Regions from separate parts of the Homo sapiens genome. Here region 2 is linked to region 1. The links come from fine-mapping of genetic effects on gene expression. A gene starts in region 1. The other region holds a variant in brackets. All regions are shown on one strand. Distances are from middle to middle. Region 1 holds the start of DUSP8 (dual specificity phosphatase 8). Region 2 overlaps BRSK2 (BR serine/threonine kinase 2).

Evidence for each region. PIP is the estimated chance that this variant, and not a neighbour inherited with it, causes the effect.
Region 2: its variant is fine-mapped to the expression of DUSP8 in whole blood (TOPMed, PIP 0.93).

The regions. Positions count from the first base shown.
Region 1 is chr11:1,565,712-1,580,786 of GRCh38, reverse strand. DUSP8 (dual specificity phosphatase 8) reads left to right here and starts at 8,516. Exons shown (of 7, transcript NM_004420.3): 1 at 8,516-8,886; 2 at 14,853-15,075. The coding sequence starts at 14,961. It overlaps KRTAP5-AS1 (KRTAP5-1/KRTAP5-2 antisense RNA 1), which reads right to left and starts at 8,046. Exons shown (of 2, transcript NR_021489.2): 1 at 7,719-8,046. RefSeq lists enhancers at 7,821-8,366, 8,915-9,462, 10,978-11,916, 11,917-12,855, 12,856-13,794.
Region 2 is chr11:1,451,760-1,466,834 of GRCh38, reverse strand. It overlaps BRSK2 (BR serine/threonine kinase 2), which reads right to left. Exons shown (of 20, transcript NM_001256627.2): 16 at 12,227-12,350; 17 at 10,307-10,487; 18 at 10,148-10,237; 19 at 7,596-7,643; 20 at 4,146-6,335. The coding sequence ends at 6,112. Among named protein-coding and RNA genes, the nearest start is that of MOB2, 27 kb to the left of the region's middle. RefSeq lists enhancers at 8,293-8,855, 13,107-13,816. The variant C/A (reference allele first, on the strand shown) is at 6,025.

The DNA.
Region 1 (15,075 bases):
GCCAGGCACGGTGGCTCACGCCTGTAATCCCAGCACTTTGCGAGGCCGAGGTGAGTGTATCACAAGGTCAGGAGTTCAAGACCAGACTGGCCGACATGATGAAACCCTGTCTGTACTAAAAATATAAAAAGTAGCCAAGGGCTGGGCACAGTGGCTCACGCCTGTAATCTCAGCACTTTGGGAGGCCGAGGCAGGCAGATCACAGGTCAGGAAATCGAGACCAGCCTGGCCAACATGGTAAAATCCTGTCTCAACTAAAAATACAAAATATTAGCCGGGTGTAGTGGCATGCGCCTGTAGTCCCAGCTACTCAGGAGGGTGAAGCAGGAGAATCGCTTGAACCCGGGATGTGGAGGTTGCAGTGCGCCGAGATCGCACCACTGCACTCCAGCCTGGGCAACAAGAGCAAGACTCTATCTCAAAAAAAAAACAAAAAAAAAAGTAGCTGGGCATGGTGGTGGGCACCTGTAATCCCAGCTACTTCGGAGGCTGAGACAAGAGAATTGCTTGAACCTGGGAGGCAGAGGTTGTAGTGAGCCAAGATTGCACCATTGCACTCCAGCCTGGGCAACAGAGCAAGACTCCGTCTCTAAATAAATAAATAAAACAATATTCAATGTCCTATAAAATTTTTAAACTTTGTGGAAGTAAAATATATGACAACAGCACAGAAGTCAGGAGAGGGATAAACAGAATTAAATAGTTGTAAGGTTCTTGCCTTGTTTATGAAGACACGAGATTATTAACTGATAATATGTTATCATAATCTCTGGATGGGTGCAGAAGCTCACGCCTGTAGTCCCAGCACTTCGGGAAGCCAAGGCAGATGGATTGCTCAAGACCAGGAATTCAAAACCAGCCTGGGCAACATGGCAAAACTCCATCTCTACCAAAAATACACAAATTAGCCGGGTGTGTTGGCAGGTGCCTATAGTCCTAGCTACTCAGGAGGCTGAGGTGGGAGAATCACCTGAGCCTGGGAGGTCAAGTCTGCAGTGAGCCATGATTATGCCACTGCACTCCAGCTTGGATAACAGAGTGAGACCCCATCTCAAAAAAATAAATAAATAAATATAACCATCTCTAAGGTAGCCATTAAAGGATAATGAATACATAACCCGGAAGCTAACAGAAGACAGAAATTAGGCCAGGTACGGTGGCTCATGCCTGTAATCCCAGCTCTTTGGGAGGCCAAGGCAGGCTGATCACTTGAGGTCAGGAGTTTGAGACCAGCCTGGCCAACATGGTGAAACCTCGTCTCTACTAAAAGTACAAAAAATTAGCCAGGTGTGGTGGCCCGTGCCTATAATTCCAGCTACTTGGGAGGCTGAGGCACAAGAATCGCTTGAATCTGGGAGGCAGAGGCTGCAGTGACTCGAGATTGCACCATTGCACTCCAGCCTGGGTGACGGAGTGAGACTCTGTCTCAAAAAAAAAAGGAAAGAAAAAAAAACAGAGAGAAGTTAAATAAGATGCATGTTGTTTAGAAAAAACAAACCCTAAATATCAAGATCCAGGAAGATAGAAAGCAAAAGAATAAAAAAAAAGATATATTAGGCAAACATTAATGTTTTCAAAAACCTAGTATAATGATAGTAAGATCAGACAATGTGGACTTTGAAACAAAACCATTATTAGAAGAGATAACATTTCATGATGATAGGAGAGTTCATGCAACCAAACAGAAAACAATCCTAAACTTCTATGTGCCAAATAACTGAGCTTTAAAACATATAAAGCAAACATTGACAAAACTAAAATAAGAAATAGATAAATCCACAAATACAATTGGGACTATAATTGGGAATGTATAGGAATAATTGGGAATTTTAATGAACCTCTCTCTCACTCCACACAATGTGCCAGCTTCCCCAAACCCTCAGACACTCTGGCCTGCCCAGCAGCTGCCAAGAGGGGCCAGTAACACCACCTGAAGATGCAGGGAACTTAATTCCTCGGGAGAGCAACTCTGACCTATGAGAGCAGAAGACAGGAAGGAGCTTGCAGAGAAACTATTCTCCCTTCCTCCTCCCTGTGGACCATTCTGAGGTGGAGCATCGCTGTATGGTCTCGTGGGAGAGGGTGTGCAGACGTGGCCAGCTGAGCTGCAACTTCCAAAAAGCCACAGCAGCTGAGTAAGAAGCAGCCTTGCCTCAGCTTCACCTCCTCCCTGGCTCGGTGTGTTCCTCCCTTCCAGAAAATGTGTACACTGAGCTTTGCATCTGGCTACTTTCTGGGGAATGGAAGCTAAGACTCCCACCATCACCATGTCCACTTAGCATTATAATGGTGATGCCAGCCCATGCAATATGACAAGAAACAAGCAATGTGAGGTTTGGAAAGAAACGAAAGTGCAGATTCATAGATGATAGGGCCATCTACCTGGGAAATCCAAGTGAACCTACAGGCGGCCTGCTTGGAGGAGTAAGAGAAGTCAGAGAGGGTGATCGACAGCCAGCCCATGACAGGCAACAACACATCAGAAATTGTGGTTTTTATAACCTTTCACAAAGCAACCGAAATCATAAGCTCAGGAGTAATATACGCAATGGGAAGACTGTAAGGCCTCCCTGGGGAAGATTATAAGGCAATATAGAAGGACGTCTTCAAACTAAATATGGAGTCTGTGTGAGAAGACACTCCAGTGTCCTCCTAGTCAACCCATCAAGTAATGCAGCTATAATCAAAATGCATAAAATCCCAAGTGTTGGCAAGGGTTTTATTTTATTTTATTTTGAGACAGAGTTTTGCCCTTGTTGCCCAAGCTAGAGTGCAATGGCACAATCACAGCTCACCGCAACCTCCACCTCCCGGGTTCAAGGGATTCTCCTGCTTCAGCCTCCTAAGCAGCTGGGATTACAGGTGCCCACCACCACACCCGGCTAATTTTTGTATTTTTTAGTAGAGATGGGGTTTCACCATGTTGGCCACGCTGGTCTCAAGCTCCTGACCTCAGGTGATCCGCCCACCTCAACCTCCCAAAGTGCTGGGATTACAGGTGTTAGCCACCATGCCCAGCCCTGGCAAGGGTTTTAAATGGAGTTCTTCTAGCCTGCTGGCAAGTTATTAGAATTCTCCACTCAGGGCAACTTTGCAATATCTGGGGACATGGGAGTTGGGGGCAGGGGGCGCTGTGGCTCACGCCTGTCATCCCAGCACTTTGGGAGACCGAGGCGGGCAGATCACCTGAGGTCAGGAGTTCGAGACCAGCCTGGCCAACATGGTGAAACCCTGTCTCTACTAAAACTACAAAAATTAGCAGGGCATGATGGCAGGCGCCTGTAATCCCAGCTACTCAGGAGGCTGAGGCAGGAGAATCGCTTGAACCCAGGAGGTGGAGGTTGCAGTGAGCTGAGATCGCACCAGTGTACTCCAGCCTGGGCAACAGAGCGAGATGCCATCCAAAAAAAAAAAAAAAAAAACTAGGAAAGAAAATAATCCTGTAATCCCAGCATTTTGGAAGGCTGAAGGCCAAGAGAGGAGGATTGCTTGAGCCCAGGAATTTGCGACCAGCCTCGGTAACATAGTGAGACTTCATCTCTACAAAAAAAATTTTTTTTTTCTGAGATGGAGTTTCATTCCGTTGCCCAGGCTGGAGTACAGTGCCACGATCTTGGCTCACTGCAAGCTCCGCATCCTGGGTTCAAGCGATTCTGGTGTCTCAGCCTCCCGAGTAGCTAGGATTACAGGCACGCACCACCACACCTGGCCAAAAAAAATTTTTTTAATTAGCTGGAGATGCTGGCACATGCCTGTAGTGCCAGCTACTCAGGAGGCTGTGATGGGAGGATCCCTTGAGCTCAGGAGGTTGAGACTGCTGTGAGCTATATTTCCACCAGTGCCCTCTGGCCTGGGTGACAGAGTGAGATCCTGTCAAGAAAGAAAAGGAAGACAGGAAGGACAGAAGGACAGAAGGAAGGAATGAAGGAAATGGAGAAAGAGAGAGAGGGAAGAAAGAAAAATAATCTGAGAAGTGTGTTACAAACATGTAAGAGTTGGGTGTGGTGGCACGTGCCTATAATCTCAGCTACGGGAAGCCTGAAGCAGGAGGATCACTTGGGCCCAGGAAGAGTTCAGTCCAGCCTGGATAAAATAGAGGGATCCCATATCTCTTTTTTTAAGCATATACAATAGGATGCTGTCTGCTGCAGTTTTTTTGTTTGTTTTCTTTTTTGTTTTTTGTTTGAGATGGAGTCTCGCTCTGTCACCCAGGCTGGAGTGCAGTGGTGCGATCTCGGCTCACTGCAAGTTCCGCCTCCCGGGTTCAAGCAATTCTCCTGCCTCAGCTTCCCAAGTAGCTGGGACTACAGGCGCCCGCCACCACGCCCAGCTAATTTTTTGGATTTTTAGTAGAGACAGAGTTTCATCACATTAGCCAGGATGGTCACGATCTCCTGACCTCATGATCCACCCGCCTCGGCCTCCCAAAGTGCTGGGATTACAGGCATGAGCCACCGTGCCCGGCCTGCTGCAGTTTTTTATAGCCCAAATATGAAAATAATCTAATATGTAAAAAATAAAGAATTGGTTCCACTCTTGCCATACACCCATGAAATACAGAACCACACAGACGTTATCATCAGGTTGTGGGAAAGCAGCAATGTGGACGAATCTCAAAAGTATTTCCTTAAGGCCAAGCAAGGTGGTTCACGCCTGTAATCCCAGCACTTTGGGAGGCCAAGGTGGGCAGATCACCTGAGGTCAGGAGTTCGAGACGAGCCTGGCCAACGTGGTGAAACCCAATCTCTACTAAAAAATACAAAATTTAGATGGGCGTGGTGGCGGGCGCCTGTAATCCCAGCTACTCAGGAGGCTGAGGCTGGCGAATCGCTTGAAACCGGGAGTCGGAGGTTGCAGCGAGCTGAGATCGCGCCACTCCACTCCAACCTGGGGGAACAAAGAGACTCTGTCTGGAAAAAAAAAAAAGTATTTCCTTGAGTGAAAGATGCCAGGGGCAAAAGTCCTCTCATTGTTTGTTTCCATTGTTTCCATTTTTATAAAGTGTACGAACAGATAGCAGTAACTCACGGTGACAGGTCAGAGGGTGAGGACAGGGCACCAGGGAACTTCTGGGATAATAAAGTTTCTAGGTCTCATTTTGATGGTGATAAAACTACATATACAGTTGTCAAAACCCATCTACTGGCTGGGTGCAGTGGCTCACGCCTGTAATCCCAGCACTTTGGGAGGCCAAGACGGGAGGATCACCTGAGGTCAGGAGTTCGAGACCATCCTGGCCAACATGGTGAAACCCCATCTCTACTAAACACACAAAATTAGCTGGGCATGGTAGTGGCCGCCTGTAATCCCAGCTACTTGGGAGGCTGAGGCAGGAGAATCGCTTGAACCCAGGAGATGGAGGTTGCAGTGAGCTGAGATCGTACCACTCCACTCCAGCCTGGGCGACAAGAATGAGACTCCGTCAAAAAAAAAAAAAAATCTACTTGAATAATGGGTGCCAAGGGCTGGGGAGGGGGTTGGGAAGTTGGTGTCTAATGAGGACAGAGTAGAGTTCCAGTTTTCCAAGACGAAAAGCTCCAGAGATGGGTGGTGGTGACGGTTACACAGAAAGTGAATGTACTTAATGCTGCCAAATTCACTTAAAAATAGTTAATATGGCACACCGTATGTTCCTGCATGCATTTTACCACAAGAAAAAATCATACGGTTTTTAAAGAAATAACGGGAGAAAAAGTCTACTTGAACAGCTGGGATGGGCATTGTATTGAGTTAGCTATGCCTTGACTTAAAAAAGTTGGGGAAATAGTGGCATGGAGGTTTGCTACACATAATTAGTTGCAACGATTATATGCACATTAGCGAGAAAAGTGAACCCCACTGTTCCTTCTGCGCAATAGGGATGCTTTAAGAAACGACCTTGGACGTCCTCCCGGAGGCGAGAGGAGCTTCAGGCGGCCGAGCCTGCGCCACGGCCTGCGGACGGCAGAGGGCGCGCGCGAACCGCCGGGCCGGCCCCGCTCGGACCCCCACCTGCACGGCCCGGAGCGCGCGTCCCCGCCCCAGGCTGCTGGACCCCCGCACGTCCCTCGCCGCGGCCTTGGCGCCTCCCCGGCCCCTCGCAAGGTCCTCCCGAGCCCCAGAGACCCCCGAGGCGGCGTCTACAGGCCCGGGCCGGGACTGACACCGCAGCCCCCTCCCTGGTCGCGCCTCCCACCCCCGTCCACACCTGTGCCGGGAGGCGGTGCGGCCGCCGAGCTGAGCTGAGCCGAGCCGACCTGGTCGGGCACCCAGGCCCCTGAGCCCACCGCCCAGGCCGGCCTCTGCTGGGTGCAAAGGCAACGTGGAACTAAGGCGGGGCTGCAGAAAAACCACCGTCCTCCCCAGGGTGCCACCTCCCTAGTCCGCCAGCCTGGTTAGGGGCAGAACCTAACGCTCTCAGTGCTTATTTGCATGAAAATGGCTACGGGGATTATAACAATCGCCGCCCAGGGCACTCTGCCCCCCAGGGACAGCCCAGGCCCTCCAGGGGAGCCGTATTCCCCTCCAAACCGCCCCCTGGGAGCCTCCAGGAGGGACTAAAGGTCGCTGCCTGCCACCTGCTCCAGCCTGGCCAGTAGCTGCCCAGGGTATAACCAGAGCTCTTAGGGGACAATGGGCACTCCCAGGCCACAGGCAGATGCTGGCCACATCCCAGCTGGGCAGAAGACACGCCCATCGGGCTCACCTAGGCCTGGCAGGGGGAACAAGCCAGGTGAGGCTTCCCCCCAGGCGACAGCCCCTCTATCTAACGGCTAACAGCTCCCATGCCTGCGGGTCCCAGGTCCTTTCAGGCCTGTGACTGCCTCCTCAAGGACCTCCTTCGCCCCCTCCGGGTCTCAGCCTGAATCCTCCTGCCCCCTCCCAGGGCCAAGCCTCCCCCACTTTTCAAACCCAGCAAGGCTGCAGCAGGCAGCCCTACTCACCTGGCCCCGCATCCGGGTCCGGCACCTCCAGTCTCAGGGTCCCCCTCCAGCCAGGGCCTCCCTTCTCGCAGGGCCCTCCCGCTTTGGGGCGCAGCCCCAACCCCAATAACCCCTGGGCTCCCTTCCGGGACAGACCCACTCCCGCCAAGGCGTTTGTTTGTGCTGTGTGCCAGCTCTGCGCCAGGACGCACTCCACCGCCACCCCCACCCCATACGGGCCACTGCCGCTCCCCTCAGGCTGGCCAGGGAAGGGAGCTGCAAGCGCTTATTAATCGCCAACGGTGTACTCAGCTCTGAGGCTGGCAGGAAGACTGAGTATGGAAAGGGGGAGCCCCAAACCCCGCTCAGCATCCCCTGCTGCCCACAGTACTCCCCACCCCCAGCCATCACCATTGGCACCCTGAGCTCCGTGGTCCTGGTGCCCACTGAGGGTTCTGCGGTCGTTGCGCCAGCTTCATTTTCTGTGGCCCTTCATTCAACCAGCGGCCGAAGCCCCCTTCAGAGCCCCAGGGTGACCCTGGGGGGCCCAGGCTGGCTGGGGGCTCGGGGGCAGAAGGCGGATCCCCCCACGCTCCCTCTCCACCCGGCAGCGGGGAGGGGGCCTTTTAGAAATGTCTAGGGTGTCTCGTGACAACCCCCCCCCGCCAAAAAATCATTACTTTCAAAGGCTCCCAGGCTCCTGGGCAGGGGTCTTTGTCCCCTTCCTCCAGGACAGCGAGGCCTCCCCCGCCCTCCCCCTGCAGCGCGAGTCTGACCCCCTTGCTCCCGCCCAACACCTGCCGAAGGTGCAATTACCCGTGCGTTCTTCCTGCCCCGGACTCGCCGCGTCCCCGCCGCACGCGCGGAGGTGTTCCCACAGCGGTCGGCGGGGTGCGGCCCCTCAACAGCCCGCACAGGGGTCGTCGGGGCGGCTTTCCACGGAAGCGGGAGGGCTGGGGGTCGTGGGGGGTCGGCGGCGTCCTGGGGAGCCCGCCCCCGGAGTTCGCGGATGTGTGACCCGAGGCAGCCGGCTCGCCTCTGAGGGTCCCAGGTCCGCCCGAGTGCAGGGGGATCCGGCTCCGTCCTGCGGGGGTCGCGGCGGGGCGAGCACAGCCGCTGCAGGTAAAACGCCGCGCCTGGGTCTGGGGAGGGCTCCCCGGCGGCGGCCCAGCGCCAACAAAGGCCAGGAGAAGGGGGGAGCGGCGCCGGCGCCTGTCCGGGTCGGGGGGAGGACTTCGCGCCCGGAGCCGCTCAGCTGGACCGTCCGGGGTCTGTGCGACGCGGCCGGGGGCCCGGGTGACGGGGGGCCTGGGTGACGCGGGGCCCGGGGCCGGGAGGGCTTCCTGGAGGCGGGGTCCCGGACGCCGCGTGGTCCCTTTAAGAGCCGGTCCCGGGGTGAGGGCGGAAGGCGGCGGCGGCGCGACCCACCCGCACCCTGCACCCCGCCCCCCCCCCGCGGCAGCCGCCTCAGCTTCACCCCGAGCCCGGGCTCCGCTGACGTCACCTGCCCCCGAGCCGCGCGCGCTGATTGGCTGCAGGTGACGTCAGGGGCTTTTTTCGCTCGGCATGACCTCATCCCCGCCGGCGGCCCCGCCCTCCGCCCCGGGCCTGTCACTCGCGGCCGAGCGCGGCGGCCGAGCCGGCTCCCCCCACGACGCCCCGCCGGACGCCGGACGCCCGAGCCCGAGCCCGAGCCCGAGCCCGAGCCGCGCCGGAACCTCCCGGCCGCGCCCGCCGAGCCGCGGGGCTGGGATGCGCGCCGCGAGCGCGCGTGCCCGCCCGCAGTGCGCGCGCCCCGGCCCGAGCGAGCGCTCCCCGCGGCGTTGGCGGCGGCGACGGCGGCGACGGCGACGCGGCCCGCGCGCTCCCCCGGCCCCTGCCCCGGCTGCGCGGGCCCCCGCCGGGCCCATGGACGGCGCGGCCGAGCGGGCGCCCTGAGCGCGGCGCGGGTCCCCGGAGCGCCCCCGAGGCGAGCGCGAGCGAGGTGAGCGGAGGCGCCGGCGGGGCGGGGGCGGGCGCCGGGGATGGGGTTCACCGGCCCGGGCCGGGGGGCGGAGGGCGCCGCGTCGGGGGCGCTGGGGCAGCGGCACCCGGTGGGCGCCCGGGAGGAGGAGGCGGCCCCGGAATGAGCGGCCACGGCCGTCCAGGACGCCAGGGACAGGGAGGCCCCTTCCCCGCCCCCCGCAACGCCCGGCGGACCCGGGCCCAGCCCACGCCCGCCCGCCGCGTTGCCGCCCTTCTCCCCGCAGCTCCTTCTTTGGGTGTGGAATGGGGGGGGGACAAAAATCCAGGACCCACCAGGGCCGCCTGAGATCCAGCGCGGATCTGCGCGAGCCCCCGACGTCCCGAACGTCACCCCCGCGGGGGCCAGAACCGGAGCAGGCGGACCCTGGCCCGGAGTCGGTCCGGGAGGTGTGGAGCCTCGGCCGTGGGAGGGACGCGACGGCCTCTGGCCTGGGACACCCGGGAAGGGGCCTTCCCCTGTCGGGGGGGAGGGCTGCAGATCCATCCCCCCAGTGTCCAGGCCGCACTGCCTCCCCATCCCGGGGTGCCCAGCCGGCCCCTGAGGGATAAAGCCCCCGCGCCCTTCCGCCTGCTGCAGAGGCAGCCGCGGCGCTGGGGGAGGGGCTGGCACAGCCAGGCTGCTGCAGCCACCTCGCTAGGCCCAGCTGCCCAGCCTGGGATGCGGAGCAGACCAGGTGGGGATACCTAATAGTCTGGCCTGGAGGGGAGGGGGCAACAATAGGCCCAGCCCCAACAGGGTCACCCCTTCTGGGAGAATCTGCCTCCGTCTCCCTGCTGCGGGGTGTACCGGCCTCTGCTGAGGGGAATAGGGGCTCTGGTGCTGCAGTGATGGGGGGCGGGGACACTGTGGGATGGAGGAGGGGGTGGCAGGATGTAGCGTGGCTCCGCAGTGCTCTTGCTGTGCAGCTTGGGGTGGGGGTGGGGTGCTGCAGGCCAGGGAAGCTCCTTTTGTGCCCCAGCGGGGGGTCTGAGGGGAGATCCAAACCCCGGCACTCTCCCTTGCCTCCCTTCTGGCACAGCCCACCCAGAGACACTGTTGCACCTAGGGCGGTCCAGGGGTGAATGTAGCACCCCAGGCCCCAGCCCTCCACCAGGAGGACAGTCCCATGCATTCACTGCTAATAAGCACTGGATGCGGATGGCAGATCATGTGACCCCAGCTGGAAGTTCATCCTGAAGTCTCGCTGAAATACCTCCTGCTGCAGCCAGCCGGGGGCTGCACGAGTGTGGCTGGGCAGGTTCTATTCCCCTGGTATCCTCTGTCCTCGGGGAGGCTTCTGGGAATAAAGTCCCATTAACAGAGGTGCAGAAAGACGCTTAGAGTCAGTCTCTGCTCCAGGACCCTTCTCTTCTCAGGCTGGGGCTGAAGTCAGGGCCTAGAGGCTGCCACTGGACAGGTGCCTCGAAGGGGCATCAGCTAGGGCCTGGGGAGACCTAGGTGTCACTTCTTGCAGAAGGCAGGGAAAGGGGCAGACCCACAGTGAGAGAGAGGTGGTTGGACTCTGGCCATGAGAACTGCACCCGCTGAGGCCCCCTCTGCCGGAGTTGCTCAGGGCAGTGAACCTTGGAAGCGCCACACTGGTCCTGATGTTTAGCATGTGGCACAGTGACCAGGAGGAGGGACACAGGTCTGGTGGGAAGGGAGGGAACCTGGATATGTCCGGCTCTGAGACTCGACTGTCACGGCCCCTTGTGCCAAGTCCTCCCATCCCCTGCCCTGCCCGGACCCCGTTCCTGGGATCGGAGGGAGCCCCCCGCCCCACCCCACTTTCTCCCAGGTCCACAGCTTCCCCAGGCCAGCGGAGCAGAGTGTAGGCCAGCTTGGGTCCTACAGCACTAGCCAAGGGAGCTGAGGGGAGGCAGGGATGAGGGCATCTGGGGGAGCCCAGTGAGGGAAGATGAGCTGACCTGTGTGAGTGCAGGGTCCCTGCCTCCCAGAGTTGCCACCCACCAGTCTCTCCTCAGCCTCCTTAGTGTGACGATTTCTGCCTCCAGAAGCATCCCTGGGTAACAGTGAGCCGGACAGCTCCAAGAGCCTGCCTAGGTGTGAGGGGGAGACACAGTCCCATCCCCCCATGCTTGACAGTCCTGGCAGCTGTCTCTGAAGGTAGTGAGTCCCCATTTCTAGGTGCTGAGCAGAAGGTAACATGGTAAGGATGCTGTCAGTTGAGAGCTGGGGGTGGCCTGGGACTCCCTGGTCCCGTCTGTGCTCAGGGACAGGAATGTGCTGCACAGAGACGCTGGGTGTGGGAGCTCGTGTTTGTAAGGAGTCTGAAGCTGACCCCTCGGGTACTGGAGTCCTGGGGTTCTCAGGGGATCCTGCATACAGAGGGCAAGGACGTGCGTGTACTCTAGTGTATGTCCAGCCCACGCGTGTGCACATATTCACGCGTGGGTACTTGCACACAGGGCAGGTGGATTGTGGGTAAGGAGCACCAGCCCTGTGTGTGGAGTGGGTGTGCAAAGAGGTGTGTTCTGGCACGCACAGAGGGCAGTGTGCACGCAGCACTGGAGCCAGGCGTGCTGTGTCCCAGGGGAGGGTGGCGGCCTGGTGCCTCCTGGAAGGTGTGGGCCTGGGAGGAGCCTTCTTCTGACTTTGGACTTGGAAACTGCTTCCTCCTGGGCTCAAAGACTTTTGAAAAGGGTGTATGGGGCTGTGCTAGGGGGCATCCTGTCCCCAGCCCTGCCTCTCACCCCCCAACCCCTAGGCACTGGAATAGCAGGGCCACAGGTACTCAGGAGGGCTTGGCATGTGGGGCCGTGAAAGGAGAGGCATGGAACCAACACCATCCACATTTCCTTACCTCTGTTCCCACATGGCCAGTGCTGGCCCCACTGATCTGCACCAGACTGTCCTTAGTGTCTCTGCTCCCCACCCCACCCAACCTGCCCCATCCCTGGCATAGCTGAGCCCCGATCCTTAGCATCTGGGGAGACAGAGGTGAGGAACATGTCCCCCTGGGAGCTGTAGGTCCAGGGAGACCCTGTGGGTGAGGATGCTCTCCCAGAGGCCAGCATGGCACAGAGGCTTCCTGCAGGAGGGGGCACTCGGCCAGCCCTTCGCAGTACAGAGAAGGCCTCTGAGGGGGCGGGGAGCCGGCGAGCTGCAGGGAGCATGCTGGGCACAGCAGGTACCTGGAGTGGGAAGGAAGGTTAGGACCAGGTAGGGCAGAGGAGCGGAGGGGCTGAGGACTGGGCTCTGCACTGCCGGGCACCTGCTGGGGTGGGTAGGAGAGAGCAGGGAGGGGCGCGTGCCCACTCTGCAGAGGAGCCTGCTCCATGGTGGTGGCTGCCGCAGGAGCAGCGGTTGCCTGGCACCTCTGCTGTTGCCATGGTGACGATGGAGGTGCTAACTTGCTAATGAATCCCCTTCGGCTGCAAATAACAATACTATTGTGGGTGATAGGCCCAGCTCCAGCTCAGCGTTGCTTAGGAGGCAGAGCAGGGCCAGGTAAAGGCCAGGACCCGTCCTCCCGCCCCTCCAGCCCCTGCCCACCACCCTGCAGCTGGACTTGCCCTCCTCCCTCCCCTCCCTCTGGGTCTCAGATCTGGCTGGCTGCACCGAGGTCTCTCATGGCAGTGTCAGGACTCAGGGCTGCATGAAGGCTAGGCCCTGGCTGCAGAGAGGGCGAGGGCCTCTCCTCACACCTGCCCTCCTCCCTGCACTGGGGGGTATTTGCTTCTGTTGTTTTCAGTGAGAGAGAATCCACCCCCACTTAACGGATGAGGACATTGAGGCCGGGGCAGCTCCTCAAAAGACCCCCAGCCCAAGTGTCCCTGCCACTGCAGCCTTCTCGGGGTTCTGGGTCTCTGAGCTGGACCCTTGGGTATCCTACGGGGCACCTGGAGCCGCTGTCTCACCAGAACCACACATCTGGGCCCTCGCCTCTCACCACCTGTGCAAGGCTCAGGTAGAACTCGGGAAGGACAAACAGCTCATCAAGGACCCCCTGTGGGTAGTCAGGGACCCCCTTGGCAGGCAGAGACCCTCCACAGCAGGCAGGCAGCAGGCCCTTTTGCTGTTGAACTTGCTGGGTCTGGCCCTGGAGAGGACTCCCAGGCCTCGTTCCCCACCCTGTGGTGGAGGCTGGAGCACCAGCCCAGGAACGTTATCTGAGTGGGATCCTGAGGCCCTGCTGACCAGGTGCCACTGCAATCCCTGGTGTCAGCCGTGGGGTCAGCTGAGGCTGCCCATCCACAGTCAGGTGTTTCCCTGGCCTCTGGCAACAGGAGGGATGGTGGGAATGCACAGAAGCCTGGGCCCAGTCGAGGCGGGAGGGGCCAGGCAGGGGCCAAGCTTGAAGTGTCTGGAGAAGGAGAGTGAGTGCGAGGCTGGGGCTCCTGGGCAGGGAGGAGCTGGGACCTGCCCCTCAGTGTGGAGTTGGGGCTGGGCCAGGGACGAGGTCCACACCAGCCTTGCACCTGCTGCTCTGTGAACTCTCTCACTGGCCCCCGCCGGCCTGGGAGCTGACCTGGAGAGTCCAGAAACGGTGGTGGCCTCTGTCCCCAGCCTGCTGTTTGCAGTGCATGGGTGTCCTCAGGGCGCCTCCCCCCAGTGCCTCCTGTGGCTGTGGGTTGGGGGTCTGGCTTGCTGAGGGCCCGCTACCCACCGTAGCCCGCTTTGCACAGGGCGCAGGGCCCAGGGTACATCTATCTCCCAGCCTTCCCTCAGTCCTGAGCTGGGTGGAGTAAACTTCCTGACTGCCTGGCAGCTGTGGGGGCACAGGGAAGATGGCATTGCAGGGACACCCAGTGCCCATCTGTGTGTGACCCAGGTGTGACCCAGGTCCCAACCCTGCCCCAAGCCTCGGTTTCCCCATAGTTAAAGCAAACTCATCATCCTTAACACTATGCGCCTCCTAGGGGCTGTGAGTGTAAAGTGGACCCAGAGGAAGGCCAGTCCTGGCAGGTGACAGGGAGATGGGGCCCGGCAGTGGGGCAGTGACAGGCTTGTCATCAAGCCTGCAGGAGGGGCTTCCGGAGACTCCATCCTCAGACATCCCTACTCCACCTGCCCACCCGGCAGTCTGAGGCCTTTGCAGGCCATGCCGAGGGCCTGGCACCTGCGGGGTCCCCGACACTGACCCTCCTCCCAGGGCTGCCCCGCCCCTCCCATCCTGGGCCCTATCAGCCCATGAAGGAGCCTCCTAGACCCCAGGCTCCGCTAGGGGAGAGGCACTGTGTGGGTGCAACACGCCCCTGCAGGAGCTGGGCACTCACCCCCAGCAGGCACGTGGCGCACACTAAACCTCAGCCTGCAGGTCAGGAGGGCAGCAGTGGCAAAGGAGCCGTGCCTCTGTGCCTGAGCCCCTCCCGCACCCGCCTGCTATCCGGCTGCCCCCGGGAGCCCACTCTCCAGTGGAGGCAGCCCCAAGGCCACCATCCACCAGGGGCTGGATTATCGGCTTACGGAGCTGCCCTGGAGTCAAGTCTCCAGGGATTGGACTCCCTGGGGCTGTGCTAGGGAGAGAGGGGCAGGTGTGAGGACAGCAAGCCCGGAGGAGGGCAGAGAGCTTGACCATGTGGGAGGGTGAGGTGCAGTCCAGACCCCGACTTGCTGGGGGTCCTGTGGTGGAAAAGATGCAGAAGTCACAGCAGGGAGATGCCTGTGTCCCAGGGATGAGATGGAATGTTCTGGAATGCCTAAGGGTCCGTGAACCCCAGGGCCCACAGGAAGGACCCCTGGCCTCTTCCAGCCCTCAGACCCTTCTCTGTGGGGCCCATTTGCCCCCCTCTGCCTTGTTGCATCCTGCTGAGAGCTGGCCTTGTGACCTGGACGGGGTCTCTCCAGAGGGAGAAGGGTTCCCACGGGCACATGTTGGTGTGTCCTGGTGGGCGCAGCTCCCAGCTCTGATCTGTCCTGGGGAGCTTCTGGGTGCCACCCAGGGGCCCGCAGCACTGCTGACCATCCCCCTGTCCCTGCAGGTCCAGCACCATGTGCTAGGTCACTCCCAGCGCGAGGCCACACCTGGGCCGTCGGAGCAGCCCCTCCTCACTTCAGGGGTCACCCTCCCCAGCACCCATTGCCCCACCATGGCTGGGGACCGGCTCCCGAGGAAGGTGATGGATGCCAAGAAGCTGGCCAGCCTGCTGCGGGGCGGGCCTGGGGGGCCGCTGGTCATCGACAGCCGCTCCTTCGTGGAGTACA
Region 2 (15,075 bases), 110 kb after region 1:
CCTGCCATCGGGAATTCTCAGCTGAAGATGCTGATGTCAGGAGATTCACTGTCAGGAATGTGTGCTCAGAGTAACGGCCACACCAAGAGCTCCTGGAGGAGGGCGAGCCTGTGGCTGGTGGATGCCCCGGGTCACCCAAGCAGATGCTCAAAGCAGGGACCGCTGTGGGAGGTCTGTGGACGAGCCTTGGGTCTGTGGACGAGCCTTGGGTCTTACGGATCCGGTGAAGCCCTGTGGGAACCACGAGAGGCTCTTAAACCATCAGAAACTCAGCTGGCTTGGACTGAGGCAGAGGGGATGTGATGAAAGGCTCTTGAGCCCCAAAAATCAGCAGGCAGGAAGCAGACTAAACTGTTCAGCTGCAAACACTTGCTACGTTTCATAAATAGAGAGCATGGCCCTGAGGGTGGAGGTGTCAGCACAGAGGCAGAGTTGGGACCCACAGAAGGAGTTCCCAGGCCTTGCTGGGACGGAGGAAGTGTACCCAGCTGGATTTTGGATTTCTTGGGAGCAGCGACACAAGCACCTTGCAGCTTTCTCTGTGTGTCACGTGTGTGTGTGTGTGTATGCACATATAAATGACTGGGTTTCACCGTCACCCAAACTGGAGTGCTGGGTAATCCTAGCTCACTGCAGCCTCAGACTTCCGGGCTCAAGGGGTCCTCCCCCTTCAGACTCCTGAGTAGCCAGCACCACAGGTGCGAGCCACCACGCCCGGCTGATTTTGAAATATTTTGTAGAGTTGAAGTTTCACTACCCAGGCTGGTCTTGAACCCCTGGACTCAGGTGATCCTTTCTGTCTCAGCCTCCCAAAGTGCTGGACCGTCACACCCAGCCAAACTTTCCTTGAAAACAGGAGTGTCTGTGACTGGCATTCCGCGTCTGTTCTCTGGTCGTATTTTGGGAGCAGGTAACTGGTTTTCTAGCTTTCGGGGTCCACAGATGGAGAGGAAACTGCCCCAGGGTGGAATGCCCAGAGTGTCACCCATACCTGATCGGGGTAGCTTAGAGGGTGCGACTTGCGACTTGTGAGCTGATGAGCTGTACGTGAGGTTTGGGACTGGACTGGGTGCTGTGTTTGGTGGAGACTGTTGGGGCCGTGAGGGGAGGGATGCATTTGCACGTGGGATGGGTGTGAAGCAGCGGGAGTGGGAGGGTACTGCGTTCGGCCTGAGACATCCCTTACCACTGGTGATGTCCACATCTAGTCCCATGGAAGTGAACGTGCCACCCAGCAGCAAAGGGGAATGAAAGCAGCGATGGGATTAAGGCAATCAGCTGACCTTGAGAGGCAGAGATGGTCTGGGCCCAGTGAGAGCACGAGGCCTTCATCGTGGAAGCTGGACGCAGGTTGGGATGCGCAGGACACAGCTGTGAGGAGGCTCCACCCACGCTCCTGGCTGCGAAGGTGGAGACCCCAGGCCACGGGATGCAGGCGGCCACAGGTCCTCCCCTGGAGCCTCCAGGAGGAGCACACCTTGATTCTAGACCAGGGCACCCCTTGAGTGAGACCTGCCCAGTCCTTGACTCTGGGACTGTGAGGTATTGGTGTTTTAAGCTTCTTACTTTGCGGTAACTATGGCGGTGATAGGAAACCACAGGAGACAATGCATCTACCAAGCAGGCCAAGGCGTTCTTACAGGGTCCTGGGGGCAGGTGCACAAGAGGGCCCAACTCCCCGGCATGAGACCCACAGTGTAGACTGTGCCAGTCTGGCTGGCACGAACGTGGCTCCCCGGGTAGTGTTCCCTGCACGTCTGTCAGCCCTGCCCGCTCTCCAGCAGGCCCCGCTGCCTGGAAAGTCGCCACTGGTTCTCCCTCCTGTTGCTGGCCTCCTCCTCTCTGGCTCTCTGCTGACCCCGACCCCTTGCCAGATCACACCAAGAGACTTGGGTTGGTGGTAGGGAGTTGGGGTGGGATGGGGAGAAGTCACTGGAGTGAGTGGGGAGGCACTGGACTTAGGGCAGAGGGCCTGGGCACCACACCACTGGAGGGCAGGAGGCAGGCAGGACGGGGAGGCAGGGCCAGTCCACCTGTGGTGAGCTCCCTGGCGGGATGGGAGCAGGGCAGCTGGAACGCCCCACCTTGAAGCTGGCATGCGGGCATCAGCCTCCTGCAAGCTCTGAGGCTTTGTGACACCAGGAATTGTTCCATCTTATAGCTTAGGAGGCTGGGGCTCTGTGCCTCTGCCTTCAGCTGACGGAAAAGCCCAGGGCAGGCTCCCCATGGAGCAGACCTAGGCCTGGACTGCTGTGTGCAGGGCCCCTCCCTGGAGCACCCACCTCCCACCTGCATCCTGTACAGGAGGTGGGTCAGACTGTCGTCCCCCGCCACCCACCTGCCATCCCATGGGTGGGCTCACCAGTCGGCTCGTTCACCAGGGCCCTAGCTCTCAGGCCAGGCCGTGGCAGGCTCTGAGCCCAGATGTGTCCGTCGGATTAGCCACCTGGGAACTGAGGACCAGGACTGTGAAGCCATCCTCTAGGTGGGCAGACCGGCCACCACATCCTTTTTCAATCTCCATTTTAATTTCTTCATAGAAATGATGTGAGGACCGACTGGTGTAAAGTGAGACTAGTGTCTGCCACATCAGAAGTCCTGCCATATTTGTTTTCATTTTTTATATAAACCAGCAGATTCTGGCTTAGCTCGCTTTGGGTTCTGTTACTTACAACCAAGAGAGCTTGGTGTCAGAAGTGGGACTGCAGGACACAGCCCCTTCCTGAGCAGTGGGGAGCTGGCAGGACTCTTGACACACTGTTTCCTTTTGGGCCTCCAGTCATGGGCCTGAGAAGGCTGACTTCTCACCGTGAATGTTTAGAGGAGGGCCAGGAGTGCGTGTGTCAGCCGCTCTCAGAGAAGCAGGTGCAGGACCACAGGTCAGGAAGGCTTCCGGTCCAGGGCCAGTAGCCTGCGACCCCACAGACTGTCCTGTGCCTCACTGAACCGTAGCAGCCAAATTCCTTTCCTCAGCCTGTTTCTTAAGGTAAAATGAACTGGGAAACTGTAATCCAGGGATTGGAATGGATCCTGATTCCCTGGGCCCCTCCCAAGTGCCTTCTCTTCAGGGTACCAACCTCCTGTGAGCTCAGCCACTTGGCAGTCCAGGGTCAAACAGAGGACGGCTCAGCTTCCCTCTGTGTCCTGGGCTCTGAGCGGAGCCCTGAGCTAACTAAGCCTGACTAACATGGTGACCCCCTGGCTCCCTCCAGAGAGATGGGTACAGGCACAGCTTGAAGTTCAGGGCAGTGGCTCTCACCTGGGGGTGATTCTGTCCCCTACCAGGAGACTCATGGCAATGTCTGGGGACGTTTTGTCACAATGGAGGTGGGACAGCTACTAGCTTCTGTTGGGCTGAGACCAGGGATGTGGCCCCCACCCCATCATCATCTCCCCCCTCAGCCATGTGCTTAGCACCTGCTCCAATGATAGACAGCTGGGTGCAGTCCGGCGCATCTGAGTCCTTCACGTGGGAGGGAAGTGTGCGTGGGCCTCCCAGGGCAGCTCTGTGGACGCCGCAGTCTCTGCGTGGACCCTGCTGAGGCCTGCTGCTGGCCTCCTCCAGGCCGCGGTGGACTCCCGGCCACTGGCCTCACACAGCATGGGCCTGGACTTGCCCTTCTGCTGCGGCGGCAGAGGGGCAGCTGGGCCAGGGCGTCGTGCCAGTGGAGCCCACGGCCCTGGCTGCCCTCTGTGGCAGGTATGGCTGGGACCATCCCCGCTCTAGCTCCAGGGGCTGTGCTCAGCCTGGGCCCCTCACTCCCAAGGCTGGGTCATGGCACCCTATCCGGACCCTTCCCAAGTAAGGAGTGGGAAGAAGGCTCATTCTCCAGGAAAAGGCCCAGGCCCTGGGTGGCCGTGCAGGCCTTGTGGGGTGGCAGAGGTGCCGTGCAAAGAGAGCTCCGCCCAGGCCCTGGCCCTCAACGGGAGCCCGCCTCAGGCTGGGGCAGCCTCGGGGGATGGCCCCACACATCGGAAGTGACCTCTGACCTTGGCCGCCCGGAATCTCACCCTCTTCAGCTGGGCAGAGGGTAGCTGCATTCACACTGGCGCAGCCCAGGGGCTGCAAGTGGGGAACAAGAAGCTGTCCCGGGCTGTCACAGAGCCCTGCGCGCCCGCCCTGCCCAGATGAAGACCTGCGTCGCTGTCTTTGCGGAAGGGATTTATTGTTCCGGAGCTGCAGCTGCTCACAGTTATGACAGGGGTACACTGCAGGGGCTTGCCCATTTCCGTGGCGCCTGCTGGAGTCCGCGTGTGTCCGAAGCACAAAAGGGGAAGGCAAGCAAGAGGCAGTTTGCTTCGTGTCCTCGATCTCCGTGGAGAGCCCCTTCCCGCCTGTACCGCCTGGCGTTTGCTGTCCTAGGTGTTTGCTTTTGTTCTTATGTATAGAAATCCCAGCCTGTGGCAGAGGTCTAATGTTAACAGAAGCGTTAAAATCTATACACGAGGTGGGTGGGAGGCAGGGGCAGGCACCGAAGCAGACAGACGACTCCATGGCAGAGGCATGCATCAGACCCGCCGTCCCCCACGGCCGCCGCACCCGGGCTGTGCCCGCCTGGGAGGGCTGGGCACATGGGCGGAAGGGAACACAGAAGCTGGAGCTGGGGTGAAGCACGGCGGCGGGCACTGGGCAGGGTGGGCCTGCAGCCCTCTGAGGGCTGCGCCCTGGGCCTCGCTCTGCACAGAACGCCCTGCAGAGGAGCGCCACCGACTCTTTGTCCTTTTTTTTCAATTTTTTCATTTTAATAAGAAAAGCCTCACAGTGCCCCTGCCGTCCTGTGTGTGGGGAGGGCCAGCTGAGGGCCCTCCTCCTACCCCTTCACCTTTGGACACAAAACCAAGATTGCCCCAGCCTGACAGAGGGGCGCTGGCGCTGCCGCCCGCTACAAGACACCGCCCCTCTGCCCCGAGCCCCCCCAGAGGTGGAGCTGCTTCTCCACAGAGAGACGGAACCCATGACAGAGCGAGCCGCACCGTCTTTAGATGTGTGTGTAGAAAGAAGCAGGAGCAAGGGACTAAAACACAAAACCTGGCCCTGCCCCAGCGGCGCCCCCACCCCCACACCCTTTTCCAAAAACCACCAAGAAAAAAAAGTTTATAAAAATATCTTGCAGGAATTCTTTAAAGTTTACAGTAGCTCGCCAGCCCCCCCGCGCCCCACCAGCTCTGTCCTCAGAGGGCGCCCTGGCCCCAGCCCCCCCACTGCCTGAGACACGCAGACGGCAGGGGATGTGGCCGCCGCCCTTCCCTGAACAGAGGTGCGGAGAATCCATAAATTAAAACGGCAAATAAATAACACTGATCCCAGCCCAGCGGCCTGGCCTGCTGGGAAGGCTCTGGTGCCGCAGGGTGTCTCTGTTTCCACCTCAGCCAGAGAGGAGCGCCAGAGCCCACAGCCGCCCCAGATGAGGCAAGGGAGGCGCGGGTGAGACGAGAGGACGGGAGGCAGCCTGAGGAGGCCAAGACTACACGGAGGCGGCGCAGCCAGGGAGGCGGGGCACGGGCCTGCGAGGAGGCCTCCAGGTGCGGCGTGGAGGCGGTGGACGGGGCCTGTTCCTGTGGCTACGTTGCCCACCAGGGGTCCTGGCCCCAGAAGGCCACCAGGCAGGCTGTTCTTGCTGAGGGGTCAGGTGACCGGGAGTCCGGGTCGGCCGGGCTGGAGGAGGCTCCCCCGAGCCTGGCCTTCCTCCCACGGGCCGTGCGGAGCTGAGGCGAGGAGCTGCCGCGGGGTGGACGGGGCGCTGGGCTGGGCCTCACTGCCCGGCAGCAACAGCAGGAGCGGAGGGAGGGCGGGTCCGCAGCAGCTGCCTTCGGTCACAGAGGATGGCCTCGTGGAGGTGACATGTTAACTTTTCGGGATAATTCCTGGTATCAGAGTGGAAACAAGCGATGCTGTCAGAGACAGGCAGAGGCAGAGACAGAGAGAAAAGAGAGCGGGCGCGGGTGGCGCAGCCCACAGGCCGGCCCCAACGCCCCTTTCCTTTCCTCCCAGGCTCTGAGAACAGTCTGGACGGACGGGCGGCG[C/A]GGCCGCGGGTCCACTCGGGGCAGGGCGGGCGGCGGGCGGCGAGGCAGCCGCTGTCAGTGCTGTGCTGGGGGGGGGGGCTAGTGTGTCTAAGGCTGCTCGCGGCGGGCGGTGGGCGGGCCCATCTTGGCCGTGTCCTTGCCCGTTGGGTACTCGGCGTCCCCTCCGGGGCCAGGGCCAGCGGCCGCGGAGTCACCGAGTGGGCCGTGGGCACTCCGCTTGGCGGGCGTGCTGGGGGCCTGGGCCGCCTGCCCGTTCTTCTCGTCTGAAAAAAGTTGTTTAATTACGTCAAAGAAGTTACTCAATGGGCTGCCTGGGTACACAGAACAGAGACAAAAAAAAAAAAAAAAAGGAAAAAAGAAAAAAAAGGGGGAGAGAAAGAGGAGGGGAGGGAAGGAGAGAGAAAGAGAACAAACAAACAAATGAACGAAGAGGCCTCGACGAGGGAAAGAACCCAGAGATGAGGCTGAGATGGGGCCGAGCGGGGACCGGTGGGCGGCAAGCAGGGTGGGCAGGCGGCGGCCGGCAGGGGCCCTGTACGCTGGGGGCTGTGCGGTGGGGAAGCTGTGCGCCGTGGGGCCAGGAACTTAGGACCCCAGCGCCTCCGAGCTGTTGCGCAGGACCCAGTGCTCCTTTGGCGAAGCGAGGCTCGGGGCAGGTGGTGAGACCCCTCCCTCCCCACCAAGGCCTGGCCCGGAAGGCCCTGCCCCACCCCCCTTCCCTCCCCACCTTGCAGCCGTGAGGGCCGACCCACCCCAACGCCGGAGATGACAGCGTAAAGACAAGGGCCTGCTGGGAGCTCTGAAGCCTCGCAGGACCCTGGGGGCAGCTGCTGGCCCCACTGCATGAGGCCCAGTGGATGACAGGGAGAGGGTGTGCCCACCACACCTCCCCAGAGAGGCCTGAAGCCCGACCCCTGGCCAGCTTGGACACAGTTTAGCAGCAGACAGACAGATGAACAGATGGGTGGACAAGCATGGAGGGGTGGATGTGGGAGGCAGGCTGGGGGGCTGGGGGCAAGCAGCTAGAGTCATGTCCCGGGTCCCTGGGATGGGGGCAGTCCTGAGAAGAGGGGCGGAAATGGGGAGCCCACCCTTCTTGGGGCCCTGTGCTCACTGCCCAGGTGTGTCGATGGAGGCCCCTCAATCCCACTTCCTAAGCCTAACCCCCACCTGAGCCCTGAGCTGTGGGCCCCTCCGCTCCCTGCCAGGCACAGCCTCCAGTGGACAGAGGGATGGGCACCGGCCCCTCCCCTAGGCCACAGCCTGCACCAGTGGGACCAGCGGGACCCTCACTGGCTTCAGGCCTTGGGAGCCCCTTCTTGGGCCTGCCCTGATCCTAGGGCCTGGCAGAGGTGAGTCTGGCCAGGAACCCCGCCTGGGCTTGCTGTGGTAGGGGAGCGACCTGGGCTGCTCCTGGTAGAGGATGGGGCCGGGGACATCTGGGCTGCTGGGTGCCTACATCTACACAGGGAGGCCGGGACAACCCGGGCGGCAGGTGGCGGCCACAGCGGGCTGAGGGTGAGCGGTGAAGTGGCAGGTGGAGGTGCCAGGTGAGCGTGGGGGATTCTTACCACATTTGGAAAGCCGCCCCGTCATCATTTCCATACAGTTAGTGGTGTCTGGAGTACAGAATGGAGAGAGGAGGGAGGGAGTGAGTGAAAGGCTGTCCTGGGCCTTCTGGCTGGACGCCCACAGCCTCGATGGGGAGGGGGTGGAGCCAGGAGTGGGTAGGGCCCCAGAGGCATGGGTGGGGAATACTGGGGGGGCCAGAGCCAGAGGGGGCGGGGCTTATAAGGGGCAGTGCAGGGGCAGGGCCTGGAGTGAGGCGGGGCTGCGGAGGCAGGGAACAAGGCGGAGCCACCTGGGCAGCAGCCGGACCTCCAGCAGCCTGAGCCTGAGCCTGGATATGGCCGGTGCCCTGGGTGGGCCTAGCCCCTCCCCTGGGCTGACAACTCTGCCCTGGCCGTGGCCTGCATCCTCACTGTGCCACTCAGCAGCTCCAGGGCCCTGTGGCTTCCGGCTGCCCTTCAACTCAAGGCAGGCACCCTCTTCCTCGGCCCTCTTCCCTACTGCTGGGCCTGGGGATGTTGGTGCTGCCAGTCCAGGACTGGGGTGGGAGCAAGGCCCTGGGAGGGGCTACTCCCTCAAGGCCCTCACTGGCGCCTGCACAGGGTGGACACACGCCCTGGTCTGCCTGTGCCTGCTCACTGGGGGCTCTCAGCCTCCCCTCCCTCGGCCGCAGTCTCTGGGGGGGTGGGCAGTGTCTGAGGAGGCCCCCTGCTGGCTAGCCACCTTCCACACATCCTTGGAGCTGGGCTCACTGGACAAAAGCATCCAGTGTGGGAGGGGGGCAGGGCTGGGAAGGGCTGGGCGTAGCGAGATCACGGGGATAGGCTGGGCTCCCCAAGTCCACAGGGAGATAGATGGGGCCCAGAATAGACCCCCAAGAGCCTCTGCAGTGGGCTCCACTGAGGTCAGGGTCCGGGGCAGGAATGGAGAGGGGCTTGGAGTTGGCTCCAGGGGAGTGCTGCGTGCTGACAGGCGGTACCACACTTTAAGGGGCCAGGCTGGGGGAGCTTTGCCTACAGCCCACGCAGGAGCGCTCGACTGAGGCACCCAGATGGCTGCTCAGGTGCGGGGACACCCTGGGCAGTACCCCGGGGCCCGTTTCTGCTTGCCCTACCAGACAAGCCCTGTCCATCCCTGGCCTAGGTGGCTGCCCTGTCGTTCCCTGGCCTCGGTTTCCCTTCCTAAGATGAAGGCTTTCAAGGCTCAGAGAGCCAGAGGCTGCTGCCGGCCGACGGCATGGCCTCCGCTGTAGGGAAGCGCCACGTGTACCTGCGGGGCCGAGCACCTGGAACCCTGCTCCTCCTTACCCGCTGTGCCAGCCTGGCTCCCAAAATCAGGAGAAGGGGGCTACTCCTCCACCCACTGGGGCTTCGGTTAGGGCCAGGGCTGTTGGGGACCTCAGCCCCCAGCCCGCAGCAAGGTGAAGCACACTCTGGGGGGGCTCCCACAGGTGATGGCATGATGATGGAATGAGGATGTCATGGGGAGGGGCAGTGGGGCCCTCTTTGGCTTCCAGGACCCCACATGGAAACACAGGAGGTGACCCTAGCATGCCACGGAGCTGCTGAGATGCAGGCTGGGAGAGGGGACCCCCAGGGTCCAGCCGGGTGCTCCCCCACGACGCCCAGCGCCCCCACGCCGTACCAGCGTTCAGAGGCACACCCACACCCCCTTGCTGACAGACCAGGCCCATGCATGTGCCCAGTGCTCCGCCCTGCCCCCACCACACATGGGCCCAGGGGAGTGGGGGGAGCCCTCCCTGCCGTATGCCGAGTGGCACGGACCCTCGGGTCCTAGACCCTGGTGGTTCCAGGCTGGGGCAACCCTCCCCTGTGTGAGCCCATCAGGCTGTGGTGAAGCCCCCGCTCTGGCTGGGCTCAAGCCCCTCTGCCCTGCTGGAGGCATGACCCTGGGCTGTCAGGAAGTATGGAGAGATGAGAAGTCACAGCCCGTCAGGCAGCCCGCGGCCCTCCTAGGGTGCCATGGCGGGGAGTCCCGAGGGCAGGGCCTTGTCACTGCTCTCCCAGGTCCTGTGCAGGCTGCCCTAGCAGATGGGCCGCCCGGGGCATGCTTGGCCTGTCCAGGGCCGAGACCTGTGGGTGGGCATGGAGGGCCCTGCTCAGGGCCAGCCTGGCTCCGCCGAGGACCTGCCCGCAGCCCCTCCCCGCCCCAGCACAGGCCGGGCGCCTTACCTGCCAGCGTCAGAGGCTACTCTCGTAGCTGGTGGCCACCTTCTGGCCCTTAAGCCCAGCACCCCAGCTTAGTCCTGGCGCTGGTGGGGGGGGTTCTACGGTGGACAAGAGGCGCCTTTCAGTGTGGTGCGGCTGCGCCCTATGTCCCTGGCGTGCAGAGGCGAGGCGGGTGGTCCCGCCAGGCCAGGGAGGGGCTCTGCTCCCTGAGGGGTGCAGCCACAGCTCGGGGCAGGGAGGTGGGGGCGTCCGTCAAGAGGGGCCAGGAGGCTGCGCCCGGGTCCTCACGCCTCCCGTCCGCGCAGCACCAGCTGGCCACGCCCCACTCGCAGGCCGCAGGTTGGCCGGAGCTGAGCCCGCCTCACCTGACAAGTGCTGGGCCGCAGGCGGGTCGTGTGTGCTCAGCAGCTGGGCCTGGATGGTCTCCACCACCCTCTTGAAGCGACGGCTGGGGCCTAGGGGAGACAGGGGGTTATGCCCTGGACGGGCCTGGGCCCGGAGCCGCCCTGGGGGCGCCAGCTCACCTGAGAGCAGGGTGAAGGTGACGGAGTAGATGCCGTTCTCCTTCTGCGCCTCCCCACCCTCCGTGTAGGTGATATCAACCTGGAACTTGACCGGCTTCTGGAACACGGCTGGCCCCCCCGTGGCCTTGTACTCGGCCCGGAAGCTCGTTTGGGAGATGACGCTGTGGCTGAGACTGGGAATCTGTGGAGAGAGAGCAGCGTGAGCGTGGCTGGCCTGGCAGGTCCCACCCTGGCCCTCTGGGGAGGCAGCCCTGGGGCGAGCCAGCCCCACCGTGCACACATTGTGAGCACCCAGGCACCTCTGCTTCCGTGAGGGGCACAGTGCGGTTGGAGACGGCTGGAGCAGGGGGAGGGGCGTTTCCAGCCCCCACCCTCCAAAGCTTTGGTCCACTTAGCGGGCACAGCTAAGCCCCTGCCGGGCTTTTCTCAGGCAGCCACAGCACAGGATGACCAGGACCTTACAGAGGAGCCTTAAGGGCAAAGATGGAGGTGGAAGGTGACCCCTGCAGCCTGAGGTGGGGGTCCAGGGTGGAGCTGAGTGGGAGGTGGGGGGTCTGGGAGCTGCCACTGAGAGGGAGGTGCAAGGGCGGGGCTGGGGCTGTGCCCTCCTGCTGGGGCTTCCTGGGACTCCCACTGGTTGCGGGACCTATGGTGCTGGGCACTGGCTGGGTGGGCTTCACAGTACCGAGGGGGCAGCTGCAGGAAGCAGAACTCAGGGCCACCCAGCGCACAGGGCCCAGGCTGGCACACAGCCGCCTCACTGGGGCCGGCATGGGGAGGGGCTGAGTCTGAGGTTAGCCGTGGCAACCAGGGGCAGCATGAAGGGATGTGGTGAGGGAGGAGGCCGAGGAAGTGAGCAGCCTGTGGGGACGGGGACGGGGACGCTGAGGACCCCTGAGGCCAGGGTCCAAGTGCAGTCTGAGGCCTGCCCTGCCCAGCGCTGGGCTCTCCTGGCCCTGGAGCCTTCTGCAGGGGCTCCAAGCTGTCCCCACAGCGTAAGGGAAGCTCAGCTGCAGCCAGGGCAGCAGTGGCCTGAGTGCCCGGGGGCAGAGCATATGGTGGGGTGGGGGCCAGTCCCTAGCTAGAGAGGCTGCCGAAGCGAACCACGGCCTGATCTTGCCAAGACCCTGGGGCCAGGGAGGGCGCCCGGGCAGTGGTGAGCACAGGGCAGGACAGCAGCCCTGGGGAGGCAGGCTGGGGGCGGTGGGGGAGGCGGGTGGGGGGCAGCCCCTGTGATGCCTGGGCGCTGGGTGCAGCACAGGGTGGGGCAGGGCCGGCAAGGAAGGGGCGTCCTGATGGGACTGGGTGCTGGAGTCCTGGCAATAAACTTTCTCCATTTGAGGCTTTTAGGGCCTTTCTGCTCCTCCTAACCCAAAGATGCCCAGCAAAGACAAATGAAGCCCACCCAAGACCCCGAGCGCGACCACTCTGTGGAGAGCCACCCGGCCTCCGAGGGCAGGGTGAGACCAGGGAAACTGAGACACCTGAGGGCTGGGGCTGTCCACTGAGGGCCAGCAGAGCCCCACCGGTCCCTAGGGCCATGGCCTCACAAGGGCTTCTCCCCGAGTCTGATGGAAATGTCCCCCTCTGAGACCCACCCAGCTGGAGCCTTCCTTCTGCCCCACGTGCCAGCTGCCCAGGCCTGTCCGGCACACACCTAGGGCTGCTGGGGACCAGTGAGCAAAGCCCTGACTCCCTCCGCAGGCCAAGCACCCCAGATGGGCAGTGACCCCTCCCTCACGAGGGTGGGCAGGAGAGAGCGCCTGTCCAGTGAAGGCGGCCAGGCAGGCCCACGGGTGAGCGGACGTCCGTGCTGTGCGCGTGGACATGTCCTGTCTACGTGAGGAGGCTGGATTCTCGGGGCTGGGCCGTGTGGGGTTGGGAGGGCTGCCCGCCTCCCCCAGCGCCCTGTGGCCTCACCGACAGGAAGGCGTGCACGATGTCAGCCTTGATGGAGCTCAGAGGTTTGTCTTTGATGACCACGAAGATCTGCTCCTCCTTCTCCAGGCTGATGAAGTTCCCAAACCAGGACTTCTTCGCCAGCCTGGGCAGTGGGAGACAGAGGCTGTGAGGATTGAGGTGTGGCACCGTCCACACCCCTGCCTCCCTCGAATCTGGGGTTGGAACGGCGGAATCTTCCATCGCTTCGTGATAGAAACGGCTGTCTCCACAGTGCTAGCCAGAACCCATGGCCCTGACCCCAACGCCCTAACCCTAGCCCATATGCCCTGACCATCACCGTGGCTCTAACCCCAACCCCAACCCTAACCTTTCTCCAAGCCCTAACGCCCTGACCCTGGCCCATATGCCACCCACTCCCAAGTCTGGGGATGCCCCTCCACAGGTGAGCCCCCCACAGGTGAGCCCCCCCTCACCAAGGCCGCTGTGAGAGGTGGCTCAAGCTGGGCTCCTGAAGTCAGCTGTGCCCCCCACCCCCAGGAGCAGGCGGGGCCTGCAACTCGCTTCCAACAGGAGAGTGGGGAGGCGCTTCTGAGGCCACAGAAGGCTACTCCTGTCTTGCTGGCAGGCTCACCCCAACATGCAGAGGCCCTCTGCTCTCCAGCTCAAGAGCACCCGAACCCCACCCACCAGCGCGGGGGCCAGGAAGCCCAGCCGTGAGAGGACCATGGCCAGAGGCGCCTCTAGCACAGCCCGAGACTCAGGCAGAGCGCGCCTGGGTGGCTGTTCAGAGGTGGCACGCTCTGCTGGCGTCCCCTGCCGTTGCTGCCTGGAGGTGGAACCAGGTGTGCTGAGAGGCAGAGGCAGGGACCGGGAGGAGGGGCCAGCAGGGCTGGGGCTCAGTGGTGCCCTCTCCCGACTGATTCTGAGGCCCCTCCCAGCGGCCTCACAACTCCCCTTTCCCTTGCCCATTCCTGGAGCTGCCTCCTCGGCCACTGTGCGGCCTGGGAGTCCTGCCGGACAAGCACGGGGACCAGGTCCAACCCTCACTCAGCCCCTCGACGCCTCCTCAGTGTCCTGCCGGTCTCGGCGGCTGTCTGTTCTGGGTTCAAAACTCCGAGGGCCACCACTGGCCCTGACCTTACCCCAGCCCCATGCCAGGGCCTGGAGCCAGGAAGTGCACAAAGCAGCCTGGCAGTTCTGGAAGCACAGGTGAGTTTCTACATGGTCGATGTTCTGCCCGATGAAGAGACAGGACAGATGGTACAAACGTGACTCTCTGCTTTGCGGCCCAGGGGTGCAGCATTTGGCAAAAATAGTCCCATGTGTGAAAGATGCCTGACGGCCCAGGGAGGCCAGGCCGACGAGGGGTGAGGGGCCTGCACTGTGACTCCAGCACCCACGTGGTGGGCAGTGCACAGCCTGGCCGGACACTAGTCTGGGTGTTGCTATGAAGCTATTTTTAGATGAGACGAACTTAAATCAGTCGCCTGTTGAGTCTGGCGGGGGACCCTTCCTCACAGGGTGGGTGCATCCGCCAGGTTCGGTCTTCCTGGGGAAAGAACGCCCCTCGAGGCTGCAACCTGGAAACTGCCTGGGCTTCCAGCTAGCACTTCAGACTCAAGGACATCAGCCCTGAGTGTCCCAGACAACCGCATGCATCCCTTCCTGAAGCCAGCTGCCTCCCTTGGTGCTGTTCCTCTGGGGTGCCTGGTTGACATGGGGCTGGCAGCAGCTGGGGCTGGGGGTTATCTCAGGTCCCCAGCAAGCGAGTTGTCGCCAAAGAGGGACTGTGGGAGGCATCCGTGCTGGACCCTCGTCCAAGGCGTCTGTGCAGGACCCTCAATAAGGGCTGTCACAGGCATCTGTGCCGGGCCCTTGGGTGGGGCTGTGGGAGGTGTCTGTGCTGGACCCTCGGGAACGGCTGTCGCAGGCATCTGTGCCGGGCCCTTGGGTGGAGCTGTAGGAGGCATCTGTGCTGGACCCTTGGGAAGGGGTGTCTGTGCCGGGCCCTTGGGTGGGGCTGTGGGAGGCATCCGTGCCGGACCCTTGAGAGGGGTCAGGGCCTCCAGGCCATCTCAAGATGGGGGAGGGGAGAAGCGCAGGCAGCCACAGTGGCATCAAAGCCACCTTCTCGGCTTTGATGTTTTCCACCTTCTCTGAGGAAGATAATTATGAGTCTGTTCATGAAAGCTTTTGGTAGCAGCAGAAACGGCAATGTCAGGGCCTAGGCGGAAGGTTCCCAAGTCTGCTGAGCCCTGTGCATCTGGGCTTGCGACAATACCTACACACCTCCGACCTGGGCACCCAGCTGGAAGGGCCACCTGATCGGCGCAGAAAGGCCACTGGGTGGAATCCTGGCACAGGCTGCAGATGCTGCTCCTGGGGCTTAGCACTGAGCAGTTTCCACAGGGGCCCCTGGTTTAAAGCCAGCAGCAGGACGAAGGTTCTCGTCTTACTCAGTCCACAGCTGGCCACATCTTCATTTCCCGGGGTCTCCTGTGAAGTGACTCCAGCCTGACCGCCGCTCTCTGCCGCTGCCTGGCCTGGGGTCACGCTGCAGGCTCATATGTGTACACCGCCAGTCGCCTGGTCTCCGAGACACTGCCCAGTGACTGAGGCCATCGTGGAGAGGAGGGAGAGGGCCTGGGCGCTGGGAAGGGGTCTCTCTGGGGACATCTTTGTCCAGACACCAGTCACAGCGGCCCCCAGGGCATCTCAGCACCTGGGCGCTGTAGAGTCTCTGCAGTGGCACCTCTCACGGCTCAGAAAGGCGGCGGGGCCAGACCTCGGCTTGGCTGCTCCGCTCCGCCCCTGCACACGTGTTCCCACCAGGCCTGCTGCCCCTTTGTTCTTAACACGGGCTGCTT